Linked DNA regions of Homo sapiens. The protein of the gene in region 4 interacts with the protein of the main gene of each other region in a pairwise test. Each region holds a gene or a part of one and is shown on either strand. Other genes may lie near its edges. The genes, in order: SHC3, STAT3, DOK5, DOK3, PPIH, ANKS1A and RIN3.

What was found.
Region 1: the proteins of DOK3 (region 4) and SHC3 interact in binary tests that used the Homo sapiens proteins (3 or more experiments, as listed by UniProt).
Region 2: the proteins of DOK3 (region 4) and STAT3 interact in a two-hybrid assay, tested with the Homo sapiens proteins (one large-scale study listed by BioGRID and IntAct).
Region 3: the proteins of DOK3 (region 4) and DOK5 interact in a two-hybrid assay, tested with the Homo sapiens proteins (one large-scale study listed by BioGRID and IntAct).
Region 5: the proteins of DOK3 (region 4) and PPIH interact in binary tests that used the Homo sapiens proteins (3 or more experiments, as listed by UniProt).
Region 6: the proteins of DOK3 (region 4) and ANKS1A interact in a two-hybrid assay, tested with the Homo sapiens proteins (2 studies listed by BioGRID and IntAct).
Region 7: the proteins of DOK3 (region 4) and RIN3 interact in a two-hybrid assay, tested with the Homo sapiens proteins (one large-scale study listed by BioGRID and IntAct).

The regions. Positions count from the first base shown.
Region 1 is NC_000009.12:89,042,383-89,047,020, forward strand, and holds part of SHC3 (SHC-transforming protein 3), read right to left. Parts: intron 4,613-4,638; coding exon 4,462-4,612; intron 3,452-4,461; coding exon 3,364-3,451; intron 1-3,363. UniProt on the Homo sapiens protein: Signaling adapter that couples activated growth factor receptors to signaling pathway in neurons. Involved in the signal transduction pathways of neurotrophin-activated Trk receptors in cortical neurons.
Region 2 is NC_000017.11:42,329,443-42,334,080, forward strand, and holds part of STAT3 (signal transducer and activator of transcription 3), read right to left. Parts: intron 4,608-4,638; coding exon 4,449-4,607; intron 4,324-4,448; coding exon 4,231-4,323; intron 2,090-4,230; coding exon 2,030-2,089; intron 350-2,029; coding exon of another isoform or gene 335-349; coding exon 305-334; intron 206-304; coding exon 112-205; intron 16-111; coding exon 1-15. UniProt on the Homo sapiens protein: Signal transducer and transcription activator that mediates cellular responses to interleukins, KITLG/SCF, LEP and other growth factors. Once activated, recruits coactivators, such as NCOA1 or MED1, to the promoter region of the target gene.
Region 3 is NC_000020.11:54,593,426-54,598,063, reverse strand, and holds part of DOK5 (docking protein 5), read right to left. Parts: intron 1-4,638.
Region 4 is NC_000005.10:177,500,747-177,504,596, reverse strand, and holds the end of DOK3 (docking protein 3), read left to right. Parts: coding exon 1-614; 3' UTR 615-1,204; coding exon of another isoform or gene 1,205-1,552; 3' UTR 1,553-2,693; downstream 2,694-3,850. UniProt on the Homo sapiens protein: DOK proteins are enzymatically inert adaptor or scaffolding proteins. They provide a docking platform for the assembly of multimolecular signaling complexes. DOK3 is a negative regulator of JNK signaling in B-cells through interaction with INPP5D/SHIP1.
Region 5 is NC_000001.11:42,664,385-42,669,022, reverse strand, and holds part of PPIH (peptidyl-prolyl cis-trans isomerase H), read right to left. Parts: intron 4,161-4,638; coding exon 4,068-4,160; intron 3,044-4,067; coding exon 2,956-3,043; intron 2,477-2,955; coding exon 2,436-2,476; intron 1,673-2,435; coding exon 1,604-1,672; 3' UTR 1,583-1,603; intron 977-1,582; exon of another isoform or gene 872-976; intron 1-871. UniProt on the Homo sapiens protein: PPIase that catalyzes the cis-trans isomerization of proline imidic peptide bonds in oligopeptides and may therefore assist protein folding. Participates in pre-mRNA splicing.
Region 6 is NC_000006.12:34,892,255-34,895,754, reverse strand, and holds part of ANKS1A (ankyrin repeat and SAM domain-containing protein 1A), read right to left. Parts: intron 1-3,500. UniProt on the Homo sapiens protein: Regulator of different signaling pathways. Regulates EPHA8 receptor tyrosine kinase signaling to control cell migration and neurite retraction.
Region 7 is NC_000014.9:92,516,781-92,520,280, forward strand, and holds part of RIN3 (ras and Rab interactor 3), read left to right. Parts: intron 1-3,500. UniProt on the Homo sapiens protein: Ras effector protein that functions as a guanine nucleotide exchange (GEF) for RAB5B and RAB31, by exchanging bound GDP for free GTP. Required for normal RAB31 function.

The DNA.
Region 1 (4,638 bases), on a different chromosome or scaffold from region 4:
GCATGGGGTCTGCCAGCCAATGTCAGGGTGGACACCTTGATGGCTCCACTGTGATGGCCTTAGCAAAAATTTTGGCCCTTGCTGCCCCAAGACCGCAGGAGCCTGGCAGGCAGAACATGCCTGACCTCCTCTCCTTGACAAATGCTCCAAGATCAAATAACTGAGCAGAAGGACCACAAGCCTTATATTAATTGCTCTTGTTTTCTTTTTAAATATAAGCAAATGCTTTATAAATTAACTTCATTCAAGCAATACAATAGAAGCTCTGTACCTCCTAAGGAACTGAGAGAGACTCCTTCCTTATAAAATAGGGCTGCAGTTACTGCCCCTGGGTCTGTGAAGGAAGCCCAGGGTGGGTGTGCAAGTGAAGAGCCCCCTCTGCTGAGGCAGTGATGCTGCCTCGATGTGACTTCACAGCTAGCCAATGGGTGTGCTGAGGCTAGGCCAAGGCTGTTCTGTCACCGAGACCTAGTGTGAAAGACCTAGTGCCTTGACAGGACTTCACAGCTAGCCAGTGGGTGTGCTGAGGCTGGGCCCGGGCTGTTCTGTCACCCAGACCCTGGGTGAAAGTGACACCCAGACCTAGTTGCCGGAGAACGCCTGTTCAGATCCTTCTCGGAGTCTTTTTGTGTGTGCGCCCTGTCTCCAATCTTCTTACGTAAACATGTTCGCAAGAACACCCTGTGGTATTCACATTTCTGGAAAGAGGGTGTCTTTCATACCCTATGGGCGGTGGTGTGTTGAAGCCAGCTCAATCCAGCTGGCAGGAGTTGGTTCAGGGCTTTTTAAAAAGCGTTCCCAAGAGCCTGTGGCTGGACATTTGCCAGCACACCACTGTCTCCCAGGCTGTAGGTGTGAGAATGAAGTGTCGTGCTAACATTCCCTCGCTGGGGAGCACCACCTGCAACATCATGGACTGTGTTTCTACTCTCCTATTTCTCAACATGCTTTCTACATTGAAGAGTCTAGTCAGATTACGCATCCTTGCTTAGTGACAGCTATTTGCAGTTTACACCTTTGTGTACATTGCAAACGAATCAGCCTTTAGAAAAGAATTTCATTAAAAAATTTTAAAAGGAGAAGATCAAGAGCCCAAATGCATAATCTTCCTGACTGCCCTTTCCCACCATAGATGACAACAGGTGCTGAGCCGGGGCAGGAGGACACGTGCCATCGTGATACCTGGAGTTCACTTCCATTAGGGACAGTATCTGCCAGCAAATTAATAAGTGACATTCTAATTTGTTATGTGAGAAAAGATATTTATTTATTTTTTTTTTTTTTTTTGAGGCAGGGTCTCATTCTGTCACCCAGGCTGGAATGCAAGTGGCATGATCTCGGCTCACTGCAACCTCCACCTCCCAGGTTCAAGCAATTCTCCTGCCTCAGCCTCCCGAGTAGCTAGGATTACAGGTGCCCACCACCATGCACAGCTAATTTTTTGTATTTTTAGTAGAGACGAGGTTTCACCATGTTGGCCAGGCTGGCATCGAACTCCTGACCTCAGATGATCCACCCGCCTCGGCTTCCCAAAGTGCTGGAATTACAGGCGTGAGCCACCATGCCCTGCCTATTTATTGTTTTCAAAGAAGAGCTGGAAATTTATTGAGAGCTCTGAGTCTCAAGTTCCAGGCCAGGAGTTCATTCTGCGACATCATCTGTTCTCGATCTGGCTGGAATAACTTGAATATATCAAAAACAAGGCCTATTTTAAAATAAACCTGATATATTTTACAATAAAGTAAATATCTAAGGGAAATAATGTGTCTCCTTTATTCTTTAGCAGTTATTATATGTCTATGCACACACATGTTATGGAAATGCATTTTAAATGTGTGTAGAACAAGGATAAATAGCCCATAATGAAAATGTCCCTCTGGCAAAGTTATGACTCTGATTTGCTATTTCCAGCCTATTCTGAGGCAGAACATGTGGTGGCTTCTGCCAGGCCTTATGTTTTATTGACTGGGCCAGCACTGTGGGTCTTCCTGCATCTGGGGCAGGCGAGACGAAATTCTCTTACACAGAGGACATTTTAAAAATGTATTGTCATTTGCTTCCTGGCATAAATAGCTATAATGAAGGAATAAGCCTCAACATTAAACCAATAATGTTTAAATTTAGATACATAGAAGCATCAGTTGCATCCATCCCCTTCAGATCTTATAGACTTAGTAGCCAGGATCCCAGAGCTAGTGAAAGAGTTATAAATGTTTTTGAGAAGGGAAAAAGGTTAAAATTAAAAGACATTCTTAAAGGATTAGATTGAGATATGAATACATTCATACATATTTGTATGTGTATATATAACTGTCTAGAGAATAAAGACTTATGTGAGCAATTAGCAGTTACTTCTTAGATAGTTGTATCTAAATTATGATGGCTGTATCTAAATATATTTGAATTATTTGCAGATATCTGACTTATAGACAGTTATATCGACATTAGTTTTAATGTGTGATGTAGGTGCATATTATGATTGTAAGATGCAGAAGTGTTCTCTGAGAGTATCCAGGGCCTGTGAGAGACGTATATCCCTGGTGCCACCTCTGCCTCAATCCCCAGCTTAGAGTAGGGGGCTTCACATCCCCCCTGAAGCTGACCCTGAGTAAAGGGAAGGAGAACGAGACAAGGAAGGAAAGGCAACAATTTGTTGTAGGAGTCACGGGGGCTCAACCTCCACCTTAGAGTTGCCTCACCAGTTCCCATAGGAAACTGGGGTGAAGTATGCCTGAGATGTCAACTTCTCAGCACCCCTGGGCATGGAAGCTCTCCCAGCATGGAGGTGTACAGTCTCAAGGGCATGAGGCAGTGACTGCAGACGGGGTGTGAATGGTCCTGGAGCTGCAGGGAGGCACTATCTGATTGGTGCCAGGAGATGTCTGCAACACTGTTGCTTTTTTTTTTTTTTTTTTGAGATGGGGTTTTGCTGTTGTTGCCCAGGCTGGAGCGCAATGGCATCATCTTGGCTCACTGCAACCTCCACCTCCTGGGATCAAGTGATTCTCCTGCCTCAGCCTCCTGAGTAGCTGGGATTACAGGCACCCGCCACCACACCCGGCAAATTTTTTTATTTAGTAGAGTTGGGGTTTCACCATGTTAGGCTGGTCTCGAACTTCTGACCTCAGGTGATTGTCCCGCCTCAGCTTCCCAAAGTGCTGGGATTACAGGCGTGTGCCACCGCGCCTGACCACACCGTTGCTTCTATTTCTATAGTCTAGTCAGGATTCTATAGCAACACACACAGCACATATATCCAGGGGTCACTCTGTCAGTCCACAGAAAATAGGCGACCCAGTGGTGAGCATGTTACTTTTGAAAAGTGTCTTTTGTGTTTCTCACCCATCTCACCTTGCCTCTCACCTTGCCTTAAAGGTGTTTGCTGCCAGTCTTCGCCAAAAGTGTCTCCTAAGTGTCTTCCCTGGTAATAAGTCTGCTCTTTTCCTGCAAACTATAGACACATGTAAATACACAGAATGAAAAAATTATTTTCTTCTCATTTCACCACTTTTGAAAGCCACAAGACAGTCGGCGAGTTGATCCTTAAGGTGGTTCGCATCCTCTGTTACACCCAATTTTCCCTTCATGCCTCATGGTTGGCATTAAGATTTGGGAAATAAGTTTGTGTGGGTGTGAGGAAAAGGCTGCATCTCCATCAAAACTACACATGCCCCCCCGCTTGTTTTCATTACCCCCCCCACCCCTCCCGAAGTGTGACTGTAAATCAAGCTCTTCCATATGTATGTCCTAAAATAAATTTCAATTACAGAGTATCTATGTGTCAGAACACACTTCCCACATAACACATACGCCCATGATCGTTCACACTTGGTCAAGTCCACTCTGTAAACCAGGAAATTTCCTTCAAAAAATCAGGAAATTCCCTCTCAGTGTCAGATCCCTGAGCTCAACGTTATTTTGCCATTTTTAGTGGTGTCATTATCATTCACATAAGGTAGTAACGTTAAAAAATTTCCTATAACAAAACAGAAATATCATAACTCTAGAAAGCAATTGCCTTACTAGAATTTTGAGTTGGACATAAAACAAGGGAATGAATAAAATAGAAAACTCATAAAATTCTCATCATTTTAAGCGTCTATATTCACTCCTTTTCAGAGAACCCAATGCCTCCCAAGCCTTTTTAAAATCTTAAATTCTCTCTTTCCCTCACTGAGATCACAGTATGATGGAATATGTCTGAGGGTACAGAGGACACCCCCAGACTCATATCCCAGGAATCACCACACAGTTCCAAAGCATTTGGCCAATGCTTTATGATGTTAACCCAAAGCCTCTCTTCATCTGCATGCCTCATGAAATCCAGTGAGAGAAAGCTCATGATTTACTGTGTCAAAAATGAAACAGAACATCAGCCTGAAATAAAACCAAAGAAAACAAAAGGAAATAAAGTAGAGTTAGCCTCCATTCCTTATATAAGAAAAAAACTATAAGACTTACCTGGGCTGTGTCAGGAGCATGGGGTCTGGGTTTCAGTCTAGTATCAAGAAAGCCCCCTGGAGGAGGCATCTTGCTTGGGATGCTGTTGTAGTATGGGTGGTCTGAGCCATCTCCCTCCTCTTCCGTCCATGGCTCATCCAGACTCTGCATTCTGTTAAAGGAAGATTTCCAAGGGCT
Region 2 (4,638 bases), on a different chromosome or scaffold from region 4:
CTGCTCCCTCAGGGTCTGTAAGAAAAGAAAAAGGCAGGTGTCCTGTGAGGCTCTCCCTAGCCCTCTCCGGCAGCCAGAGGCCCTTTGTGAAGGGGAGCTCCTCCCACATACCAAGTGTTTGAATTCTGCAGAGAGGCTGCCGTTGTTGGATTCTTCCATGTTCATCACTTTTGTGTTTGTGCCCAGAATGTTAAATTTCCGGGATCTGAATCACAGGGGAACAATCAACTATGTAGGTGACCAAGTAGCCGGAGGATGAAGTTAGGTTAAACGGAACAAAAGGAAGCCTCTAGGCTGAACTTACCCTCTGAGAGCTGCAACGTCCCCAGAGTCTCTGTAAGAACACAGACTGTTGTTAATAAAATAGGCTCTGTGTTTCTTCAAAAAGCCTACTTTGACCACCTGTTATTTACTGTCATGAAAAAACCTCTGTGCTCCTGGGCATTTCTTTAAACTATTCAGTTACAGTTGATCAGCGCAACATAACACCTCTGCGTAGCAGGCACAGTTGGTTGCCTCCCCATAGGAAGGGGAACCTATGTTTCATATTGCATATGTACTTATTAAACCTACCACCTTCGTCAACTCCCTTATTTCATTATTTTCCAGTGCATCCTCATGAAATTTCCACATAATTACATCAACTAAAAATAAGAATGCATTTTATCTTTTCTTTTTTCTTTTTTTTTTTTTGAGATAGTTTCGCTCTTGTTGCCCAGGCTGGAGTGCAATGGTGTGATCTCGGCTCACCACAACCTCCACCTCCTGAGTTCAAGTGATTCTCCTGCCTCAGCCTCCCGTGTAGCTGGGATTACGGGCATGCGCCAACACACCTGGCTAATTTTGTATTTTTAGTAGAGACAAGGTTTCTCCATGTTGGTCGGGCTGGTTTCGAACTCTCGACCTCAGGTGATCTGCCCACCTCAGCCTCCCAAAGTGCTGAGATTACAGGCGTGAGCCACCGCGCCCAGCCACATTTTCTCTTTTCTTTTCTTTTTTTTTTTTTTTGAGATGGAGTCTCTGTCGCCCAGGCTGGAGTGCAGTGGTGTGATCTTGGCTCACTGCAAACTCCACCTCCCAGGTTCATGCCATTCTCCTGCCTCAGCCTCCTGAGTAGCTGGGACTACAGGTGCCCGCCACCACGCCCAGCTAGTTTTTTTGTATTTTTAGTAGAGACGGGGTTTCACCGTGTTACCCAGGATGGTCTCGATCTCCTGACCTCGTGATCCGCCCGCCTCGGCCTCCCAAAGTGCTGGGATTACAGGCATGAGCCACCGCGCCCGGCCCACATTTTCTCTTTTCTAATGTCGTCAAAGGGTATATGTATTTTACATCCTGAAAGGTATTGTGAAATTTTGCGTATTCCATTATATGGTAAAGTGTGGAACAATTAAAAAAAAGAGATCTATTCTTTCCACATGCTATGTATGGAAAGAATATATAACGACGTTTCGGTCAACAACAAAATGCATATATGATGGTGGTCCCATAAGATTATCATGGAGCTGAAAAATTCCTACTTCATTGAGATGTGTTACAATTGCCTACGGTATTCAGCACAGTAACATACTGTACAGGTTTACAGCCTACGACCAGTAGGCTCTGCCACATAGCGTAGGTGTGCAGTAGGTTCTGCCACCCAGGTTTGTGTAAGGACTATATACTCTACAACATTTGCACAACAAAATTGCCTAATGATACATTTTGCAGAACGTATCCCAGTCGTTAATTAACACATGATCTCAGTCTTATATATAATATGCATGAATGACATGTACAAGTAAAAAACTAAACAAGGAAAAGAGGGACTGGTTGTCACAATAGCAACCACAAATCAAATCTGTACCCCCAGCTTTGTGGCTTTGTTCAGACACGTAAATGACAATGCACCCCAAGGCTTTTGAAAACTTTTGTCCACAAAATGAAGATCTCTGAATAAAGACAGAGTCTCTAGTTCAAATGATGTCTGTCAAAGTTCTCATTTTTCTATTCCTCATTTGAAAAACAGAGCTAAGATAGGAGTACTTACTTGTCAATGCACACTTTAATTTTAAGCTGATAATTCAACTCAGGGAATTTGACCAGCAACCTATTTAAAAAGAAAAAATCCAAGGAAAAAAAGTCAGTAACTCTCCCATAACCTTTTCTTGAAGAAATGTAAAATTCATAATTCTTCATTTCCAACAGGTAAATAGGCCAAGCTGTCTATAATTACAGGCTCACATCTATAATCTCAGCACTGTGGGAGGCCAAGCTGGGAGGATCCCTTGAGCCCAGGAGTTCCATAACAGTCTGGGCAACAAAGTGAGAGCCCACATCTATAAAAAATTTAAAAATTAGCGGGGTGTGGTAGCATGTACCTGTAGTCGCAGTTACTCGGGAGGCTGAGGCAAGAGGATCACTTGTGCCCAGGAGTTCAAGGCTACAGTGATCTATGATCATGCCACTGCACTCTAGCCTAGATGACAGAGCGAGATCCTATCTCTCTTTCTCTTTTTTTTTTTTTGAGACAGTTTCTCTCGTTACCCAGGCTGGAGTGCAATGGCGCAATCTCCGTTCACCGCAACCTCCGCCTCCTGGGTTCAAGTGATTCTCCTGCCTCAGCCTCTCAAGTAGCTGGGATTACAGGCGCGCGCCACCACGCTCAGCTAATTTTGTATTTTTAGTAGAGACAGAGTTTCTCCATGTTGGTCAGGATGGTCTCGAACTCCCGACCTCAGGTGATCCACCCACCTTGGCCTCCCAAAGTGCTGGGATTACAGGCGAGAGCCACCGTGCCTGGCCCCTATCTCTCTCTTTAAAAAAATTAAAATAGGGCTGGGTGCGGTGACTCACACCTGTAATCCCAGCACTTTGGGAGGCCAAGGCAGGTGGATCACAAGGTCAGGAGTTCGAGACCAGCCTGGCCAAGATGGTGAAACCCCGTCTCTACTAAAAATACAAAAATCAGCCGGGCATGGTGGCAGGTACCTGTAATCCCAGCTACTTGGGAGGCTGAGGCAGGAGAATCACTTGAACCCAGGAGGCAGAGGCTGCAGTGATCCGAGATCACACCTCAGCACTCTAGCCTGGGTGATAGAGAAAGACTCCATCTCAAAAAAAAAAAAAAAAAAAAAAAGGCCGAGCGTGGTGGCTCACATCTGTAATCCCAGCACTTTTGGAGGCCGGGGTGGGTGGATTACTGAGGTCAGGAGTTTTGAGACCAGCCTGGCCAACATGGAGAAACCCTGTCTCTACTAAAAATACAAAAATTAGCCGGGCATGGTGGAGTGTGCCGGTCCAGCTACTCAGGGAGGCTAAGGCAGGAGAATCGCTTGAACCTGGGAGGTGGAGGTTGCAGTGAGTTGAGATTGCAACACGCACTCTGGCCTGGCCGAAAGAGCGAGACTCTGTCTCAAAAAAAAAAAAATTAGCCGGGTGTGGTGGCACGCACCTCTATTCCCAGTTACTCAGGAGGCTGAGGCACAAGAATCACTTGAACCTGGGAGATGGAGGTTGCAGTGAGCTGAGATCATGCCACTGCACACCAGCCTGGGTGAGAGTGAGACCCTGTCTCAAACAAAAACAAAAGATGAGTATCACTCCTTCAAGCCAAAGGTACTGAGAAAACATCTAAGAACTAACAACTTAAAGTTGTGAGAGATTCACAAAAGGATAATCAAAGCCATATAATGAAAAATATTACAGGAACACATGCTGTGCAGCTGGCATTTTGTTCTATTAATCCTGAAACCGAACACCATACTAAGTTTCTGAGGAGGGAAATTTTGCTGCAGAAGGTCAAAACCCCAGCACACCTGTTCTGACTTGAGTGTGAAAGTAACACCTCACCCTACAGGCCCACCACCCACCTGCCCTGGGGCCTCTCAGCTTCCCCATCACTAAGCCTTACTCTTTCCCTTAAAATCCACAGGGAAGAGTAGCCTCAAAGAACAGAAAATAGATGACATTATTTTGTCCCTTGGGCAGAAGGAGAAGCTGTGGCCTGAGACTCCAGGTCTACAATCATAGGAATATGCCCAGGTACCTTCAAAAAGATGACTGCTCTTTTGCTTTTGACATCAGAATCAGAGAGCAAGCAGATAGTATGGCAACAAATTTCAACCCCGCAACAGTGTACTGCCTGTGACACCACACCTGGAAAGAATGACCCTGGCCACCAACTCTACCCTCACCCTAACAGTGTCCCTCAGTAAAATCTCTACTGGAAATGGAAGTGGCATGGCCTACCTGACTTTAGTAGTGAACTGGACGCCGGTCTTGATGACGAGGGGCCGGTCAGGATGCATGGGCATGCAGGGCTGCCGCTCCACCACAAAGGCACTGAGGAAAGAGAAGATGGGCTCACGCGCCACGGCCATGACCAGAAGTCAGCCCGCCTCTCACTCTACCACGTGAGTCTTTAGGTATTTTTTAGATGAGGGAAAGGGACAAGGATGCTAAATTACCTTTTCATTAAGTTTCTAAACAGCTCCACGATTCTCTCCTCCAGCATCGGCCGGTGCTGTACAATGGGGTCCCCTTTGTAGGAAACTTTTTGCTGCAACTCCTCCAGTTTCTTAATTTGTTGACGGGTCTGAAGTTGAGATTCTGCTAATGACGTTATCCTGCCAATAAATTAAGAAAGATGCTAATTAC
Region 3 (4,638 bases), on a different chromosome or scaffold from region 4:
AACTAAGAGAACATACAGGGGGTTCCAAAAAGTCAAGTCAAACTAAGAACATTTATACCCCAGTGCGCAGCTCAGGAGGCATATTTACATCACCAGCATCTTTGCAAGTCTGTGGCTTATTGACAGATGCCTTCCTCACATTGAGGCAGCTTCAGTGGGAAAGGATAATATGCTCACAAGATCATCCAAAATGGATTTAGCAAGCTTTGGTTATGTAAGCATGCTTTCTCTCCCTTAGCTCTGCAGAAGTTAACTAAGAACCAGGCTAACCTCCAGTAGAAGGTGAGCCTTCTTAGAAATCTATGGAGTTTGGAAGTAAAAGATGCTTTCTCTCCCTTAGCTCTGCAGAAGTTAACTAAGAACTAGGCTAACCTCCAGTAGAAGGTGAGCCTTCTTAAAAATCTATGGAGTTTGGAAGTAAAAGATCTGAGCGTGAGTCCTGAATTTATCAGCTTTGTGTCTTCGGACCTCTTGCCATTGCCCAGGTTTCATTTTAAGAGGGAAATAACTGTATCCCCTAGTTTGTATGATAATGAGTAGCTCAAATGAGGTAATGAGCCTCTTAGTACAGAGGCTTTCATATAGTAAGGGCTCAGTAAATGGTAGTGATGATTTTCAATGGCTCATACACCTGCTAGAGTAGGGTTTCTCAACCACATGATTAGACCTGATAATCCTTTGTTGTCAAGGACTATTCTGTGCCTGTAGCAGCATCTCTGGCCCTTTTATGCACTAGATGCCAGTAACACCCCCTGCCCAGGTTGTGACAATCAAAAATGTCTCCAGACATTATCAAATGTCCCTTAGGAGCAAAATCACCTCTAGCTAAGAACCACTGCTCTGGAAATCGGCACTATTGTGAGTGCAAATGTCAATTACAGTCAAATAGCCTCTTGACCTTATTTGTTTTGAGCAATTATTAAATGCTATATTGTACATATTTTGTTAGTTTTTAAAAGCCTCACCTCCACTCCTCTTCTGATAGCAACAGTACCCTCTTCCTGCCTTCAGTGAACCAACCTCATTGCATTTGTACCCTGTGAGCTTTGTGTAAAGTGCAGTGCTTGACACATAGTATATATAATGACAGCAGAGAGTAGTAATATATCTCTCTTTTACTGAGATAGTGTGGGGAGATCTCAAAGCTTCTGAAAGTCACCATATGGAGCTAGAATGAAGCTATTTTAGAAGAAACAGAACTGTCACATAAAACCTGGGATTATCATTTGGACACTGAGCCAAGCCAAGCCTGAAGCCATCTTTACTCCTCAGACTTTGAGTTTATGGAAGTCAATGAGTTTCTTTTCAGTACTAGTTTGGGTGGATACAACTGCCTACTACATTCAGGCACTATTCCAGGTGTCTTTACATGTGCCTTTATTTAATCTTCATAGCAATCTTTTGAGATAAGTAATATATGTGTTCCCAATTTACAGGTGGCAATGAAAAAAAGCTCGGTGAGTTAAGTGACATATCCACGTTCCCACAGCCAGTATGTGATAGAACTGTAATTTTACTTCATTTCCTCCAACTTCCAGTTCAGTCTGTTACACATGCCCCACTGTCAGCTTTGGTGGGGTGAAACGGAGCCACTGAGCAGGAATAACACTCAGTTCTAGTTCTAAGAGAGAGGCTGAACATGAGCAGAACTTTGTCCAAGAAAGATTCCCTGTGTTCTAGAGGATATTGTTAAGTTTTTGCAGATGCATGTTGGATATGTGAAAACTACTTGCTTAGACAGACAACTCCTGCTCACTTCTCGATGTGAGAGAAGGGGAAAATTATACTGGTTGATATAAAACTGCTTTGTTTCAACACATCCAAAAATAGCCAAGGAAAAAACTTATCTTCACTAATAAAGCAAGGCAGACATGAAACCTTCACGCTTGGTGTGGAACACGAATGATCTTATTATCCTGAGCATCTTGATGGTAAGTATAAAAATTTATCTTTATTTGAGTTTCAAGCAAAATATAAAATAGTAATTTTACCTTGCATTTAACACTATCCTGCAAGCTTATGTTCTGCTCCAAAAGTAATCATAATAGAATACCAAAGATACTATTTAGGAGAAGCCCAGCATCCTTCCAGGTCATCTACATGCATTTCTGCCTTTACCTACAACAAACCTGCAAGAAAGTTATTACTCTGATCAACTTACAAGGAAAGTTAAGAACTTTGTCCAAGGTTAGCAGCTAGCAAAAAATAGAGATTACTCAGGGTCTCTCTAAATTCTGAATCAGTACTTTGTATACTACACCAAGCTGTTTGAGAAGTAAGATGCTAAGCATACAACTCCCACACTTTCCTTTCTGACCATTCAATCTCAAGTTTGCACCAGCCCTGCAAAACATGACCAATGCATAAGAAATAATGCTATTCAAAATCAATAAATATTCTATGTCCCTACGATATTGGAGATATAACATTGAGTGGCCTGGGTTGTGAATATTATAATCATCTAACCAGTGGAGTTCTTGGATGAAATAAGCAAATGGATGGACCATAAAGGGGTCATCAAAGTCATGGGATAAAACACTTATATCTTCCAAGTCAGCATGTTGGTAAAGACCATTGAAATAGTTCTCAACTTTGTCACCCATATATCTTTTCATCCACCATTGTTTCACTTGAACTGGTTCAATATCTCCCACATCCATACCTATCTCCTCTATCCTACCGTGCACAATGTGATCAAAGTGACCTTTATAAACTTTTTTTTTTTAAATGGAGTCTCGCTGTGTCACCCAGGCTGGAGTGCAGTGGCAGGATCTCAGCTCACTGCAAGCTCCGCCTCCCGGGTTCACGCATTCTCCTGCCTCAGCCTCCCGAGTAGCTGGGACCACAGGTGCCCACTACCACGCCCGGCTAATTTTTTGTATTTTTAGTAGAGATGGGGTTTCACCGTGTTAGCCAGGATGGTCTCGATCTCCTGACCTCGTGATCTGCCCGCCTTGGCCTCCCAAAGTGCTGGGATTACAGGCATGAGCCACCACGCCCAGCCCTTTATAAACTATTAACACAATTACATCACATACACACACACCCCATATACACACATCTCATACACACACAGAGACTCAAACATACCAGCCTCCAAGTATCTATGGTTTCCTACAGCACTTAGGAGAAATATCGAGGTCTTTTAAGTAATCACCTAAATCCTTAGCAGTTCCGTTAGATTTCAATATGAATAAATTAAACGTTTGCAGGATATGTACAGTGTTCATTTTATACCTGGAAAATTAATAAGATAACATGTTTTCAAGTTTAAAATAGATATGAGATACTAATAAAGTTTACTAAGGTTTTGATCCTCAAACATTACCATAAAAAGCTATACTTTTTTTCTACTACTATTTCCTGTAAATGGTAAATAAAAAAAGATTTTAAAATATTAATAATTGAATAAGTGCTGCCCAAAACAGATCCAAAGAGTCTTGATCAATGCAGAATTCTCTTACACATCAATATGAAATATGAATGGAGATGATATGAGAGGTACAGTCATAGAAAAGTCTATTTATAAAACATTTTCAATACTTAGATTTCACTGGTTATCGTTAATGCATAAATAATTTCTGAGACCCAAAGGGAAAAATATACCAACCTTACCAAAAAAAATTATTCATTTTCTATAGGGATTTTCTTTTGTCATTGTTGTTTTCTTTTGAGACAAGGTCCACTCTGTCGCCCCAGGCTGGAGTGTATTGGCAAGATCATAGCTCACTGTAGCCTCGACCTCCCAGGCTCAAGTGATCCTCCCACCTCAGTCTCTGGAGTAGCTGAGACCACAGGTGTGTGCCACTATGCCTGGCTAATTTTTTTTTCATTTAATTTGCTTTTATTTTTTGTACAATATACCCAATGATGAATAGGTATTCTTATTTTCTTTTTTAAAAAACTTTTGTTTTAAGTTCATGGGTACCTGTGCAGGATGTACAGGTTTGTTACATAGGTAAATTTGTGTCGTGGTGACTTATTGTACAGATTGTTTCATCATGCAGGTATTAAGCTTAGTATCCATTATTTATTTTTCCTGATCCTCTCCCTTCCCCATCCTCCACCCTCAGATAGGCCCCATATGTGTTGTTCCCTTCTATGTATCCATATGTTCTCATGATTTAACTCCCACTTATAAGTGAGAACATGCAGTATTTAGTTTTCTGTTCCTATATTGGTTTGCTAAGGAATTAGGCCTCCAGCTCCATCCATGTCCCTGCAAAGGACGTGATTCATTCTTTTTTATGGCTGCATAGTGTTCCATGGTATATATGTACTACATTTTCTTTATCCAGTCTATCATCGATGAGCATTTGGGTTGATTCCATGTCTTTGTTATTGTGAATAGTGCTTTGATGAACATACATGTGCATGTGTTTTTATAACAGAAACATTTTGGAGAGATGGGGTCTCCCTGTGTTTCCCAGCCTGCTCTCAAATTCCTGGGCTCAAGCAATCCTCCTGTGTTGGCCTCCCGAAGTGCTTGGATTACAGGCATAAGCCACCGTCCTGGCCTGGGATTTTCTTATAAGAAGAATAAATAAGTAATTCTCACAAAATAAGAACATTGCTCTCAACATTAAAGGTTTATTTTTTGTGATAACTTTTATAGTCTTTGAAAGATTCACCAACTTG
Region 4 (3,850 bases):
CCCCCTGTGCCCCTGACCTGTGCAGGGCTGTGGCCGGGGCCATCGCCCGCCAGCGGGAGCGGCTGCCAGAGCTGACCAGGCCCCAGCCCTGCCCCCTGCCACGGGCCACCTCTCTGCCCTCCCTGGACACCCCCGGAGAGCTTCGGGAGATGCCACCAGGACCTGAGCCACCCACGTCCAGGAAAATGCACCTGGCCGAGCCCGGACCCCAGAGCCTGCCGCTACTGCTAGGCCCGGAGCCCAACGATCTGGCGTCCGGGCTCTACGCTTCAGTGTGCAAGCGTGCCAGTGGGCCCCCAGGCAATGAGCACCTCTATGAGAACCTGTGTGTGCTGGAGGCCAGCCCCACGCTGCACGGTGGGGAACCTGAGCCGCACGAGGGCCCCGGCAGCCGCAGCCCCACAACCAGTCCCATCTACCACAACGGCCAGGACTTGAGCTGGCCCGGCCCGGCCAACGACAGTACCCTGGAGGCCCAGTACCGGCGGCTGCTGGAGCTGGATCAGGTGGAGGGCACAGGCCGCCCTGACCCTCAGGCAGGTTTCAAGGCCAAGCTGGTGACCCTGCTGAGTCGTGAGCGGAGGAAGGGCCCAGCCCCTTGTGACCGGCCCTGAACGCCCAGCAGAGTGGTGGCCAGAGGGGAGAGGTGCTCCCCCTGGGACAGGAGGGTGGGCTGGTGGGCAAACATTGGGCCCATGCAGACACACGCCTGTGTCCACCCTGGCCTGCAGGAACAAGGCAGGCCGCCTGTGGAGGACCTCAGCCCTGCCCTGCCCTCCTCATGAATAGTGTGCAGACTCACAGATAATAAAGCTCAGAGCAGCTCCCGGCAGGGGCACTCACGGCACACGCCCCTGCCCACGTTCATTGCGGCCAACACAAGCACCCTGTGCCGGTTCCAGGGGCACAGGTGACCTGGGCCTTACCTGCCACCCGTGGGCTCAAACCCACTGCAGCAGACAGACGGGATGGAAATCATTAGGACTCCATGTTGCTCTGCACGGCCGAGTGACACGAAGAGGCAGGCGGAGGGAGCTGTGAGGCTTACTTGTCAGACTCAGGAAGGAGCAACATGAGGGCCCAACTGGAGACCCGGAGGCCCGAGCTGGGAGGAGGCAGTGGGGGCGGGGTGCAGGTGGAAGGGATTTCAGAGACACCCTCGTCCAAAACACTTGTTCCCTGCTGAAACTCCAACAATTTGCAGATACTTCTGGGAACCCCAGGCGTCAGTCTCCTCATCTGTAAAGGAGAGAGAACCGATGACGTATCAGGCATAATCCTTGATGAGAGTTTGCTGCGTGCCTACTCAGTGCCAGGCGCTGGGGGACACAGCCGTGTTCAGGACAGCCTTGGTCCTGTTCTCCGGGAGCCGACATTCCAGGGGGAGAGAAGTTTCCTGAAGACTTCCATGCTGCGTTCCCTCCTCTGCTCCTGCTCCTGGCGCCATCCTAGGAGCCAGCCACGCACGCAAGCGTCATGCCTCCAGGGCTCTGACTGCCCAGCCCCTCACCGCAACTCCACCTCAGCTGCACACACCCTTGGCACATCCTGAACCTCATTTTCATGACGGACACACAATTTTTGCTCTCTCCTGTCCAAGCCTCATCCTCTGGCCGCCACCTCCTTCCAGCTCACTTCCTTTAGTGCGGCCAGTACCGCCCCTGCCTAGGCATGTCGACCTGCAGGGACCCTTTTCTGGCTCTTCGAGGCCTCTGCCCACCATCCCCTCTTTGTTCTCCATAGTCCCTTCCCCCTGTTCTCTCTCGTTTCATCTTACTGGTCTGGCAAAGTCCCCGGCCTTGGGCGAGCCCAGACCTCCTCAGTGCCTGCACACAGCTGCCCACAGCCAGAGAAATCCATTTAAGCAGACTGCCTGCATCCTTCTTAACAGTGCAAGGCAGGCACTCCCTGCCACAAGAGACCCTGTTCCCTAGTAGGGCAGCTTTTCTCCTCCCCAGAACCTCCTGTCTATCCCCACCCAATGTCTCCTCACAGGCATATTGGGGAAACAGGTCGGGCTCTCCCACCGTATCTGCAAGTGTACTGGCATCCATCTGTCTTCTTCCTACCCCTACAGTAGAAACAGTGTCTGTCCCCAGCTGTGCTCTGATCCCGGCTCCTTTCACCTCAGAGCTTGGAAAATTGAGCTGTCCCCACTCTCTCCTGCGCCCATTCATCCTACCAGCAGCTTTTCCAGCCACACGCAAACATGCTCTGTAATTTCACATTTTAAACCTTCCCTTGACCTCACATTCCTCTTCGGCCACCTCTGTTTCTCTGTTCCTCTTCACAGCAAAAACTGTTCAAAAGAGTTGTTGATTACTTTCATTTCCACTTTCTCACCCCCATTCTCCCCTCAATTAACTCTCCTTCATCCCCATGATGCCATTATGTGGCTTTTATTAGAGTCACCAACCTTATTCTCCAAAACAAAAGCAACAAGGACTTTGACTTCTCAGCAGCACTCGGCTCTGGTTCTTGAAACACCCCCGTTACTTGCTATTCCTCCTACCTCATAACAATCTCCTTCCCAGCCTCTACTGCTGCCTTCTCTGAGTTCTTCCCAGGGTCCTAGGCTCAGATGTAGTGTAGCTCAACCCTGCTACACAAAGAATCTCCTGAAAGCCTGTAAAAATGTCCATGCATGTTCTGTGAGTGATCTACCAAGAAAATAAAAAATTTTAAAAATCAAATGCCCATGCCTGGGCCCACACGCAGGGGCTCTGATTTCATCAGTCTGGTAGGTGGGTTCTGGGCATCCACGCTCACTGGATTTCCGGATGATTGTAGTATGCAGCCTAGGCTGGGAACCACTGGCCTCAGCAAGCCAGTCATTCTCCAGGTGTCACAGACCCTCTAGGTGCTAATGACCCCGAAGGTCTGTCTTCAGTGCACACCTCCCCCTGAGCTCCAGATTTAGGAATCCCACTGCACACGAGACATCTGGATGTGGAAAAGACATCTCCAGATCCCATGGGTGAAAGGGGGTTGGGGGAATGGAGACTCTGGTGTTCTTCCAGGATGTGTGTGGACACAGAATGCAAAGCCTGGAGGGATGCTAGAGCCATAGGGAGGAAGATTTTGGCTCACTTATTCATGCAAGCACTTCCTGATGGGTAAGGTCTTAGAGCAAGCTGAGGCCAAGAGGCGGGCAGTCGAGGTGCTGCTGCAGGCACCCCCACTCCCTACAGTGGCAAGCCCAAGCCCAGCCCTTGGCAGCTCAAATCCCAGGACACGCTGAAGGTCACCCAGAGAGTCAGGGGCATGGCTAGAACCAGAACCCAGGACTCTGGGGACCCAGCATGGCATCCTTTCCTTCATTACAAATCTGAGCTGCTTTGTTTCCTAGGGATTTCTGTGATATTCCAAGGGGACTGTGGGAAAGAAAGTCCTTGGAAACCACCAGGACGCTAGAGGCCTGGCCTGGAGCCTCAGGAGTCTCGGCCACCAGAGGGCGCTGGGTCCTTGTCCAGGTCCAGTTGCTACGCAGGGGCTGCCTGTGCTGGGAGGCTCCCCAGGGGACACAGACCAGAGCCTTGCACCAGCCCAAGGAATGGGAGCCTGGGGTCCTCTCTGCTGGAGGACTGCCAGGACCCCCAGGCTGCCGCCTCTTCCTTTGCTCATTTGCTGTTTCACTTTGTCAATCCTTCCTTTCTTCGTGTGTTCATTCACATCCACTGTGTGCTGGCCCTGGGGAAATGTTAGATAAGACACATTAGCTGTGTGTCTTCATTGTCCTAACAAAGAACACACCCTGGAAAGAGCACCGCAGAGAGTCCCCATTCCCCCATCTCCCTCCACACATGGAATCTGGAGATGCCTTTTCCACATCCAGATGTCTCTGGTGCTG
Region 5 (4,638 bases), on a different chromosome or scaffold from region 4:
GCCCAGGCTGGTCTCGAACTCCTGAGCTCAAGCTATCTGCCCTCCTTGGCCTCCCAAAGTGCTGGGATTACAGGAGTGAGCCACCTCCTGCCGGGCTGTTTTCATTTTTTAATACAAGGTGGTTTTACATGAACTAAGAAGGAAAAGTTTTCAAGACATATTTTTTAGAACATGAAAAATATAGTATGATTTCATTTGGGAAAAAGAAAACCTCCCAAAATTAGATGGGCAAGGCAAAGGCCCTGATGGACATACATCAAACTAATAAGGAAGTGACCTTTGGAAAGGGGAGTGGAATTGCAGGTGGGTATTGTCAAGAGGGGCTTTCACTTTATCTGTTTGGTGTGAAAGTTTTCACAATGAGAGTGTATTATGTTACTTGTGTAAACCAAATGAAATGAAATATGGGAACCTTGATTGGATCACCTTTTTTTAAGCTACAAAAGTTACTTTTGGGACAATTGGGGAGGTTTGAAAATGTACTATATATTAGATAATATTGTGGTTACGTAGGATGTTCTTATTTTTAGGAGTTCCTTGCTGAAATACTTAGGGGTAAAGTGTCAAGAAGTCTGCAACTTTCAAATGGGAAAGAGAAGAAGAAAGGGTAAAGGAAGGAAGATGGGAAGAAAGGAAGGAAAGGATGGAGGGAGGGAAGAGGAGCAGGAGGGAGGAGGAGAGGCAATGGAAATGGGTGAGGAGGCAAGAAGGGAAAGAAAAAAACAAATGTCAAGGCAAAGCAATAAAACAAGAATGTTAATCATTGGTGAATCTAAGTGAAGATATATTGGTGTTCAAGGTATTATCTTCTAACTTTTTTGCAGGTTTGAAAATAAAAAAAAAAGAAAAACAAAACATCACTACCCCTCACCTGGCTGGAAGTGATGGATTTCTCCCTTGTACTCTTCTCATACTTGGCAATGTCACTCATATTACTAGTGATCACCTCTGGGAATGTCTTACTTTCCATGAGCTCCTGAAAGGAGACATCTTTCAATTCTTTGTCCCCCTCTCTGCAGCTAGCATGCTGCCCAGCGCAGAGCAGGCAGTGGTAATTACGGGTAAGAAATGAGTCCATGTAGGCTGGAAGATGCAAGGCATTCACCTATGAGGCCAGCGAATATGAAGTCGAGGCCTGGAATTGCAGTATCAGTTCTGATGAGAGGCATGACAGGTGTGTCTCCTGGCTGCCTGGCCTGGTCCCAGCAGAGAGTTACTCAGGCCTGGAGCCAGGTCTTTCTAGGGGGACTACTGAATGGAACTGTAGTCTGAGAGTGCTGTTACAAACTGCCTGAGTAGTTTTCACATTGATACTTTGTACATTACAAAGTGATAGAAAAGTAAAGTGCTCCTACAACCCTTTCTCTTTTTATTTTTACAGTGACTCTGAGAGATAGGTATTACAGTATTTCCATTTGACAGATGAGGAAATGTGCTCAGAGAAGGAAAGTGACTACTCCAAGGCCATACACGGAGGAACTGGGCTCAATCTCATGTCTTCAAGACTAAAGTTCTTTCCACTAGACCATGCTGCCTTCTCTGAGGTCTGATTCCTAACCTAATAGGAGAAAGACACACTTACCTGATTCAGTCTTTGTCTGGACTACATCTCCCCACACTGCGAGATCACCACAGGTAGCTTGGGCTTATTGTTGGGGCCTGTGGGAACATTCTAGGAAAAAAAGCACAATGGAGATTCATCCACTCAGGCACTTCCTCGTTCCCTTATCAAACTTTTACTGATGCCTGCCAGCCCTGTGCTAAGGACTCAGCACTCAGAAACAGTCCATGTCCTGGCAGACAGGTAAAGCATATAATACCTATCAAAGAGAAAATGCAAAACACTTAGAAAATATCAAACTTATGATTATATAAGAAAAAGTTATAAGAGAGAATTGGATAAGGGTTAGATAGGCAACTAAATTGGGGCTTAAAGAGGTCAGGGAAGGATTCACAAAAGAGGGGTATTTGAACTGTGCCTAGAAGGATGAATGGGATTCCATCAGGAGGGAAGGAAAGAAGAGCATTCCGGCTAGAGGAAACTGTGTGAGCAAAGGCTCAGGGGCAGGAAAGAGCAAGCAGCAGGGACATGCATGGCAGATTTAGAGAAGAGCTAGTAGCCTGATGTGACTGGAACATGGAAGAGGCAATGGCAGAAGAAGGGGCCATGGAGAGGTAGACAGGGACTAATCATGAAGGACCTTGAACGCAATGCTGAGGAGTAGAATTTTATCAAGTAGGCAACAGGATCATCAGAGGCCAAACCTCAGTGTTGGCCAGACAGGCTAACTTAGGTGGTTCTCTTCCCTTTTCCTGGGGCAATGAAGACAGCCTAACAAACTGGAGCTCATTCCCCCTTCTCTAGCTCCTGCACGCTAGTCAGACAGTACCAGACCACAATGGCAGAGAAACAGAAAAATCAAAGCAGTACTTACCTCAATCTTTCTCATCACTAGAAGTCCATCGATGATTTTTCCTGTAGGAAGAGCATGAGCTGGACTTTATTCTTGTTTACATAGCATTTTCCAGCTTCCAAAGCCCATTCTTAGCTATTTTCTCATTAAACCCTCATACTAACTTTAGGAAATTAAGATGCGGTAGAGGTGAAATGACTTGCTCAAGGTCATAGGTAATAAGTAGAGTTAGGGCTCAAACTTATACCTGAGTGACTCCAAAGTCTCACCGTATCATGCTGCCTCTATGGCATTTCTTTGGTGCTAGCAACTGGGTTTTCTCCCTAAGTGGTTCCATACTATATCAAATGGTCCTTTTGTCCTTCCCTCTAGTTCTCTAGCCACACATGTTCCCCACCTCCCCACCATTTCTGTTTTCTCTATTACCACCTAAGCAGTTACACAGGTTGAGCTTTCTTGGTAAGAGTTTGAGAACTAACTCCTCTGGAGGTTCCATCCAGGGTGAATGGGGCCTGGACCATGAGACAGGAGTAGGACTTACCAAACACCACATGCTTCCCATCCAGCCAATCGCACTTAGAGCAGGTGATAAAGAACTGACAGCCATTTGTACTTGGACCACTGTTCGCCTGATGGAAACCAAATATACCTGCAGTAAGTTTCCCCGGCCATGTTAGCTGAAGGGCAAGATTTCCAAAAGAGCTTGTAACACTGATTCCTCTATGGTTTTTTTCAGTAAATCTAACTTAGCACCTATTATGAGCCAGGGCCTAAGCTAGGATCCAAGGATACAGAGATGAACAGGATATGGCTCACTGCAGCCTCAAACTCCTGGGCTCAAGCAATCCTCCCCACCTCAGCCTCCCTAGTAGATGGGACTACAGGTGTGTGTCACCACACCTGGCTAATTTTTTTTTTCTTTTTTAAGTAGAGACTAAGTCTCACTATGTTGCCCAGATTGTTCAAACTCCTGACCTCAACCTCAAGCAATCCTCTTGCTTCGGCCTCCCCAAAGTGCTGGGATTACAGGTGTGAGCCACCACACCCAGCTATGAATATGTCTTGAAAGCACAACTGTTTACATTCTGAGCAGTAGGGCTGAATGCCCAGACACAAATCCTGGTTCAGATTTTAGTTCCCCAGCCTGCTAGCCTGCTAGTGGGCCTTACCTACTGGTTTTCTTTTCTTTCTTTTCTTTGTTTTAAGATGGAGTTTCGCTCTTGTTGCCCAGGCTGGAGTGCAGTGGGGCAATCTCAGCTCACTGCAACTTCCCCGTCCTGGGTTCAAGCGATTCTCCTGCCTCAGCCTCCCGAGTAGATGGGATTACAGGCACCCACCACCACACCTGGCTAATTTTTTGTATTTTTAGTAGAGATGGGGTTTCACCATGTTGGCCAGGCTGGTCTCGAACTGCTGACCTCAGGTTATCCACCTGCCTCAGCCTCCCAAAGTGCTGGGATTACAGGCGTGAGCCAGCATACCTACTGGTTTTCTCAGTCAAACCAGACTAAGAAAGGAGGTGGTAAAGGTGAGTCCTGGGCCAAGCAAGAGAAGGAAAGCATTTGCTTCCATCCCAAGAGACAGCACTGGGCCTCAAGAGGGGCCCAGGAACCAGCTGGCTATAACCCAAAACCTTGATTGGACCTCACTTACCATGGAAAGCAGGCCTGGAGCTGAGTGTCTAAGTTTAAAATTTTCATCTGCAAATGGCCCCCGGTAAATACTGGCGACTCCAGTACCATCTCCCTGAGCAGAGAGAAGGGAAGTATTAGTGACTTGGAGTGTTGGGTCCCTGGAAACCGGAGGAAGAACACTGTCGCACCTAAAGCATGACATCTTTAAAGTCTACTCTTACTCTTGTTGGTCATCTTGGAAGCTGCACCTATTTGACCCCACCCTGCAATCAGATCAAGCCTTATATAAGGTACCTACAGCCCACAAAGACTGGCTGGAGCATTTTATAGACTGGATAAAAGAGGTCACAGCTGGGCCTCTAGAACGATCAATTAAGATGCAGACAAAGTAGGGAACAGCAACAAGGTGATCACATACTCAATCCTTGCCATTCCTGAAGACTCTCATGCCTTCAGTCACATAAAAGTACCCACTTAAGTGACTACCACCCCATTCCCCTAAACTATCTAAGAGGGTGGGTGAGCTCTTGGCAGTCTGTATGTACAACATGATACCACCCTCCTGGTCATAGTTGATTGATCTAGGGAAG
Region 6 (3,500 bases), on a different chromosome or scaffold from region 4:
TAATTAATTAAGATAGTTTAGTGGAAGACCCAGAAAACTGCTATGCTAGTGGATAGTTGCATTTTATCTTGTTTTTGCATTCTCTTAGAAGAGCAGGAACTTAGATCAGACAAATTCAAATCCACAAGATCTGTTTCCAGGCCCTTCCATTCTACAATCCTTACATGGTCAGTGTTGCCCTCTTCCTTAAGATGTTAAAATCATTTTGCTCAAAATAGGCACTTTCAAAAGAAATCTGGCACAGTAGTGGGCAAAAGTAAAAAGGTCAGCATGAGAAAAGGCTGTCACGCCATTATAATCTCCAAGGTTCAGATCCATTCTGGGAATGAATAAAGGACCATTTCAATAGAATGGTTATGCTAATCACTGTTTAAAAAATAATAACACTAACAAGAGGAAGAAGTCTAGCCTGGCATGGTGGCATGTGCCTGCAGTCCCAATAGCTCAGGAGGATGAGGCAGGAGGATCAATTGAGCCCAGGAGTTTAAGGTCAGCCTGGACAACATTAGCAAGACTCCTGTCTCTTAAATTTTTTTTTTTAATTAAAAAAAAAAAAAAACCAAAGTCCTTAAATAAATATTAGGAAGCTTTCTTTACAACAATGAATTACTTGCCATATTTTCTGACATTTGGGAGAATCTGTTATTATCCTCCAAATGAGGTCCATTTTTCAAAATTTTTCATGCTTCATTCCTTATTTCAGAACATTTTCACATCTTGGGAAATTCATATCTGTTTTGGAATAGTTTTCTTTTTCTTTTATTCCCCCAATGAAATGGCAGCATAAAAATTAGTTTAAAGCCACATTCATTGCTACTATCTATAAATTTTCAGATTCTCCAGCAAGTCTCCTTGGCTTCCTCTTTTCTTATTCACCCTTCTCATGCTTGAGAAATTAAGCATAAAATATTCCTAAACCATAACATAATCTCCTCAACTGTGATCTTCGGTTTAGTTTCTCTGTGCTTCTGAACCCTAAGAAGTACATTTCACTTTACTTTTCCATTCATATACATCAGTATTTAGTTCATAACTCAATTTACAGTTTGAAGCTATTGTGGCTGGTTTTCTTTTTTCTTCTTTTTTTGGGGGGTGGTGGTGTGAGGACGTGGTCTAGCTCTGTCACCCAGGCTGAAATGCAGTGGAACAATCTTGGCTCACTGCAGCCTCAACCTCCCAGACTCAAGCAATCCTCCCACATCAGCCTCCCGAGTAGCTGGGACTACAGGTGCACACCATCACGCCTGGCTAATGTTTGTATTTTTCGTAGAGATGGGATTTCAGCATGTTGCCCAGGCTGGTTTCAAACTCCTGGGCTCAAGTGATCCAGCTGCCTCAGCCTCCCAAAGTGTTGGTATTACAGAGGTGAGCCACTGTGCCTGGCCATGATTGGTTTTAACATTTCCTTTTCTCAGATCTTTTTGGCCTTTTAGTTGATAGAATTTACTTTTAACCAAATCTTACAATATTCTTATACAGGAGTTTCTTTCTTGGAAATCAGTATTTCACTATAACTCTAAACATAGCAAACTGTCTTGTTACATGAGAATCTGAGTGCCCGCTACGTGCCCAGAACTAAAAAATACTGTAAGTTAAGAAGTTTGATAGAATGCCTATCCCAAGCTCCCAAGGTATAGACCGAAGGCATGCATCCATTAAACAATCAGAAAATGAGTTAGTATTATATAAAGTATAATCCATGCAATCCAGAGCCTCTGTAAGCCTAGACATTCTGGATAACTGTGCTTTCTAGATAATCTATTGCTTATCCTTTTAAGTAAAAAAATTATATTTAAACCATTTTGGATAGAAAACTATATTTTTTTTCTTCTTTCACTAACAAGCTATATTGAACATAATTTAATCTTTATTTGATGGCTAACAGTCATAATAAACATAAATCATAGCACAAAGATACAGTAAACTGATGCTTGGGGCTTACATAGGTATATAGGGCTATATACACCTATGTTAATAGCTTCAAACAGCCGGGAGGTAGGATAAATTATGCTAAATTTGTGTGCTTTCTCTGTCTCCTTTTTGTTGGCCTGTTACACAGACGTATCATACTACTATAAACTCTGTAAGGGAACAGAACATGTATGAAGAGAGGGGCTAATTCTGACAGACCACGTACAATGTCCCAGGTCTCAGACATATTTTGCAGTGCATCTAGCAATCACTTGGCCTGGCACAAAGTATATCATGGGTAAACATTGGGTATATGAATGATTCCTCTCCCTTATTTACTCTTTCTAGTCTGCCATGCTTGGAAAACAGATCCCCAAGCATGAAAAAACACCATTTAAAATGTGTCAGGCAGGGCACTGTGGCTCACACCTATAATCCCAGCACTTTGGGAGGCTGAGGCAGGAAGATCGTTTGAGCCCAGGAGTTTGAGACTAGCCTGGGCAACATAGTGGGACACGATCTCTACAAAAATAAAAATAAATAATGTGTCTGGCATGGTACTTTGCACAGAACAGGTGCAACACAGCAAAACCGTATGTGCTGAACTGAGGATGACTAAGACTGAGGACTTAGAATATGCCAGGAATTATGGTAAGTCCCGTACACACATTATCTAAGATGATACCTATAAGGCAGATAGTATTATCCCCATTTTACAGATGCAGAAATTGAGTATCAAAGTGGTTAACTTGAATAATGTCAAGCAGCTAGTCAGTGGTGGCAGTGGAATGTGAATCCAGGAAGTCTGACACAAAAACAAGTGGTCTTAATGCTATAACATGCTTAATGCTAAGAAAAAGTGGACAGTATAATGCTATACTGTTCCTGAATAAATATCCAGTAAATAAGGAAGGCTAGAAGAACACAAAGTTTGTAACAACATGTTTTTCTAGTAGAAGTCTTCTTTGCTGACTTTCTGATTCTCAGGTATAGCATCAATCGGTGAGGGTTGCTATATGTAAACATTATACTGACAGGCCAAAGCGATCAACTGTGAAAGCTAGGCAAGCAAAGTACACTACAGATGACGTGCTCCAAAGACATGGAAGCTTGAGAGATCTGTGTGTATTAGGGTCATCAGGAAGGGCTTTAAGAAGTTAAAACCTAAGCCCAAGCTGTGTAGAGGAAAAGGGATGGGTAAGAGAAGAGGGCATTTTTTAGCTTAAGAATAAACACAAAGCCTTTGTGGAATACGGGATGGGGGAACACAAACAGGTGAATACACAAACACATGTGTGGTCTGGAACAATTATTCCACTGCAACTGTAAGCTCCTATTTCTGCCAGCTTTACTTCAGGCAAGTTACAGTTGGCAGTACAAATAGGGGTAGAATATGGCCGCTAATACAAAGGCCAAATCTGAAGCTATGATTCCACAGCTCTCATTAAATAATCCAGGGTCTTTAGGGGAGAGAGGGTTGGGAGCAGAGGTAACCTACCCTTCACTATGTCCACATCTAAAAAGGGAGGACATACTGACCTAGGCATGGTCTCATTTGCTCAGAAATCTTTTACTAGCTTTAACCAGAG
Region 7 (3,500 bases), on a different chromosome or scaffold from region 4:
GGTCCCTGATCTGTGATCTTCACTGAAGCTGCAAGTGTGAAAAGCTTGAAATGCCACAGGGCACCCGCATTTTAACCCAGGAGATACAGAAATCAAAACTGGAAACCTACCAGGAATTGATCTCAGCTGGAAGCAGAGAGAGGCATGATATTTGAAGGAGGACACCCAGACCCTTCACCATCCCCTTAGGCCTCCCTGGAGCTCCATTTTGGAGACAGGAGTCTGAGGTGGTCTGTGGTGCCTCCCAGTCCCTTGCCAGAGCAGAGACGGAAAGAATGGGTGACAGATGGCCACAAACTCTGTCTCTGTAACCCCCTGGAAGATTCCACCTGTCATGGCAAGACATGGCAAGCTGTGTCATCTAGGCAGTGATGAGTGAGCACCATTGGGTGGGCAGCTCGGAGGAGGGGAGTGCCTGAGCAAAGGTTCGGGAGGTGGGAAAGTGTGGTGGAGGGGCTTGTGGGGCAGGGAGTGCACCCTTCAAAACCCAGAGGTACATGACACACATTGCTTTACAAAGCGACTGTTATCAGATAACAGGGGTTGAGGAAACGGAAGACAAATTTTGTCTGGGGAGAGAATTACAGAAGAGGGGCAAAAGTATAAAGGGGGCTGCCCACAGAACCCCATCCTTGGGGCCTGGGTCACCTAGGGGATTGGGGGCATCTGTGTGTTCAGAAAGAGCCTTAACATGGGGTAAATGACACCCAAGGCCCCTTAACTTCCTGTTGGCCCCCAGCTATCTGATCCTATTAGGGAGTAACCTTTAGAAGAGAGTGGGGGGCCATGCGTTATCATCTTGTTATTGGGTAATTGATTGGTGCTGCTCTGATGGCCAACTCCAGAATGTCCTGTTGATACAACTATTGCCCCGAACCAGCATTTATTCTGAGAACCAGGAAGTCGAATTTCTCCTGCCCACCAGGAGTGTCTGAAACATGGATGTTTTCCCCCAAGATTGGAGCCAAAGATGAAAATCACAACTTTAATGACTTCCAAACTGGATCTCCCCTCCGTCCTACCCCACAGTGGGCCCTTCTGGTGGTTTGGTTGTTGCCAATCAAGCTAGAGGGACTCTCAGGCCAGGCAGGGAAAGTGGTGTGTCCCCCAACAGCTCCCTAATTGCCCTCAGGTGACATGCTGTCCTATTTAAAAGGTCCCTCAAGAAAGTCCTGCCCTCTGTACCCCAGCCCAGCCCTGCTGGAAGCCAGTGTACAGCTTCACATCTTCTGTCCTCTCCAACGTGCAGAGCTTGTCTGTGGTCTTGTACCTTTGCCCATGAGGTTCTTTCTGCCCTTTTTACAGGGCTCACCTCTTCCATGTAGCCTTCTATCCATGCCAGCTCACAGAGATTCCTCCTTTTTGAATATTCATAGCCTTTTTCACATGAACCGCTTGTTTGCCTAGCAATTTGAAAGAAGCCAAAACCTCTTTAATATCATGACTTCCTACTTCAGTTACAAACTTCCAAAGAAAGGGGTCAGGTCTTTTAGTTCCATATCCTTGTGTCCTACATGCACTTGGCACTCCATAAATGCTTGAGGCCAATGATACGCTGATTGAAGGCTGCACAGCCTTTTCTTTTGTGTCCCTGGAGCCCCTGAATTTCTGGAGGTGTTTACAAGGTGGCCTAGATCACAGGGCGGGGCTAAGTAGGGGGAGACCCAGGGCTTGGGGGGCTAGGAGCCCAACTCCATTCCGCAGCAGCTGGTGACCCCCACCACAAGGCTACCACACTCCTCTCCAAGTCTGGAAAGCAGAGGCCACCCAGGCAATTGAGTAGGGACCCTGCTTGGCCCCAACTCCCCTAATTTTATCCTCCCCAGCTGTGCTCCTGATACTTGTCAGGGAGAAAGGATGGGGGAAGGAGAGGCCAGCCCTGGATACTGTGTCTCAGCCGGAAGAATGGAGAATAGCTTGGTGTACAGACTTGGGGGAGCCCTGGGGCATCAGTGGGTCCCAAATGCGGGTCTCTGGACCACTGAGAAACTGGGAAAATAAGGGTGGCCTGTGTGTGTGTGTGTGTGTGTGTGTGTGTGTGTGTGTCAGCATCAGTGTCAGCCATGGCTGCCAACGTGTCTTTTCTTAGGCAGAACTGTCCTTTGCTGGTTTGGAAGAGGCGTGGGTGTTTGCATGTTGTAGGTCATCAGTAGGGCTAGAGAATCTGGGGTCCTGTCTCCTCTAGTATTTTAGGATTTTATTCTAGGAAGCTGCTCCCTTCCCTCTGGACCTCATTTTCCCATCTGAGAAAAGAGCTCCATGTTCTCAAGGTCCCTGCTCGCTCTGACAGTCGGCTCCCTGAGTTACCAGCTAGCAGGCAACGGAAGCTGGTGTCCTAGAGTAATAGCATTCAGGGGATCAAAGTGCCCATTGGAGCTGAAGTGGCCCATGGAACAGTCTAGAACATGCAGGCACTTTCACAAGAAACAAAGACCCATCCAGGAGACTTTTGGCTCATTACCCTGACCAAGCTACCTGGAAGGAAATGGTTTTTCTTTTTCTTTTTGTTATTGCTGTGGTTTTATTTTGAAAAACCTAGTCTTGAAAAAAGTACATTTGGTTTTGGGAGCCCACTTTGGGGCAGGACCCATGGCTCCTTGCCAAGTGGACAGTGAGCTGGGAAGGTTTCTCAGGCGGGGAGCCCTGGTGTGGCTGGAGTAGCCTCTCGAGGGTGGCTGGGCTGGTAAGGTGGAGCCTGCCTGGCCATCAGCTGTGGGAGCTGTGGAGGTGCTGAGGAGATCGCAGACAGCCGGGGATACGGGGCCTGGCTGTTTAGAGACCGTCTGTGAAGCCTGCCCCTGTCAGGGTTGGAGTCTGAGGGGCGGCCCTACCAACAGAGGATGAGACAGGTGTCCAGGCTGAGGGATGGCGCTCTCTGCCAGGCCTCGGTCTCCCTGCCCAGGGCTGCCCAGAGATAGCCAACGCGTCCCTGTGCAGGTGGGGGCGGCAGTGACGCTGTGTGCCTCCCTCCCCACGCACAGTGTAGTACAGCGAAGCCAGTCCGTCCCTCCTGCCAGCGTGGCCTTGATGGAGAAGAGAGGAGTGACGGGTACATGGGAGGCCTTCCCTCAGCCTGGCGTCCACAGGGCAGTGGGAAGGCATTACTATCTGTGTGGTGTCAGCGTTTATACAAGAGTCTGGAAGCCACCACTGTGTCCTCTCCTCTACTCTCCTGCCAGTAGGGCCTCTGTGCAGCCTTGGCATGTTTCCTCTCCACAGGGGTAGGGGTTGGAGGGACTGCCCCCAAAGCAGAAACAGTGCTGATAGTCAGAAGCTTTGAACATGGCTGCAGAACCCCCTGCCCCAATTTGACCTCAGTAATACCCAGGGGTGCCCCCACCTCAACCAGTACATGTTTAATGGAATGAACGAGCCTGCAATGAAATGTCGGTTCTCTTTTTAGCAGAAATGGCCTAGGCCGTGGTTGTGGTCAAGGCCTGTTGTCTGTAAGTGACGTGACGGCACACACTCAGGCCACATCCTATGGGGTAATGGTGCTT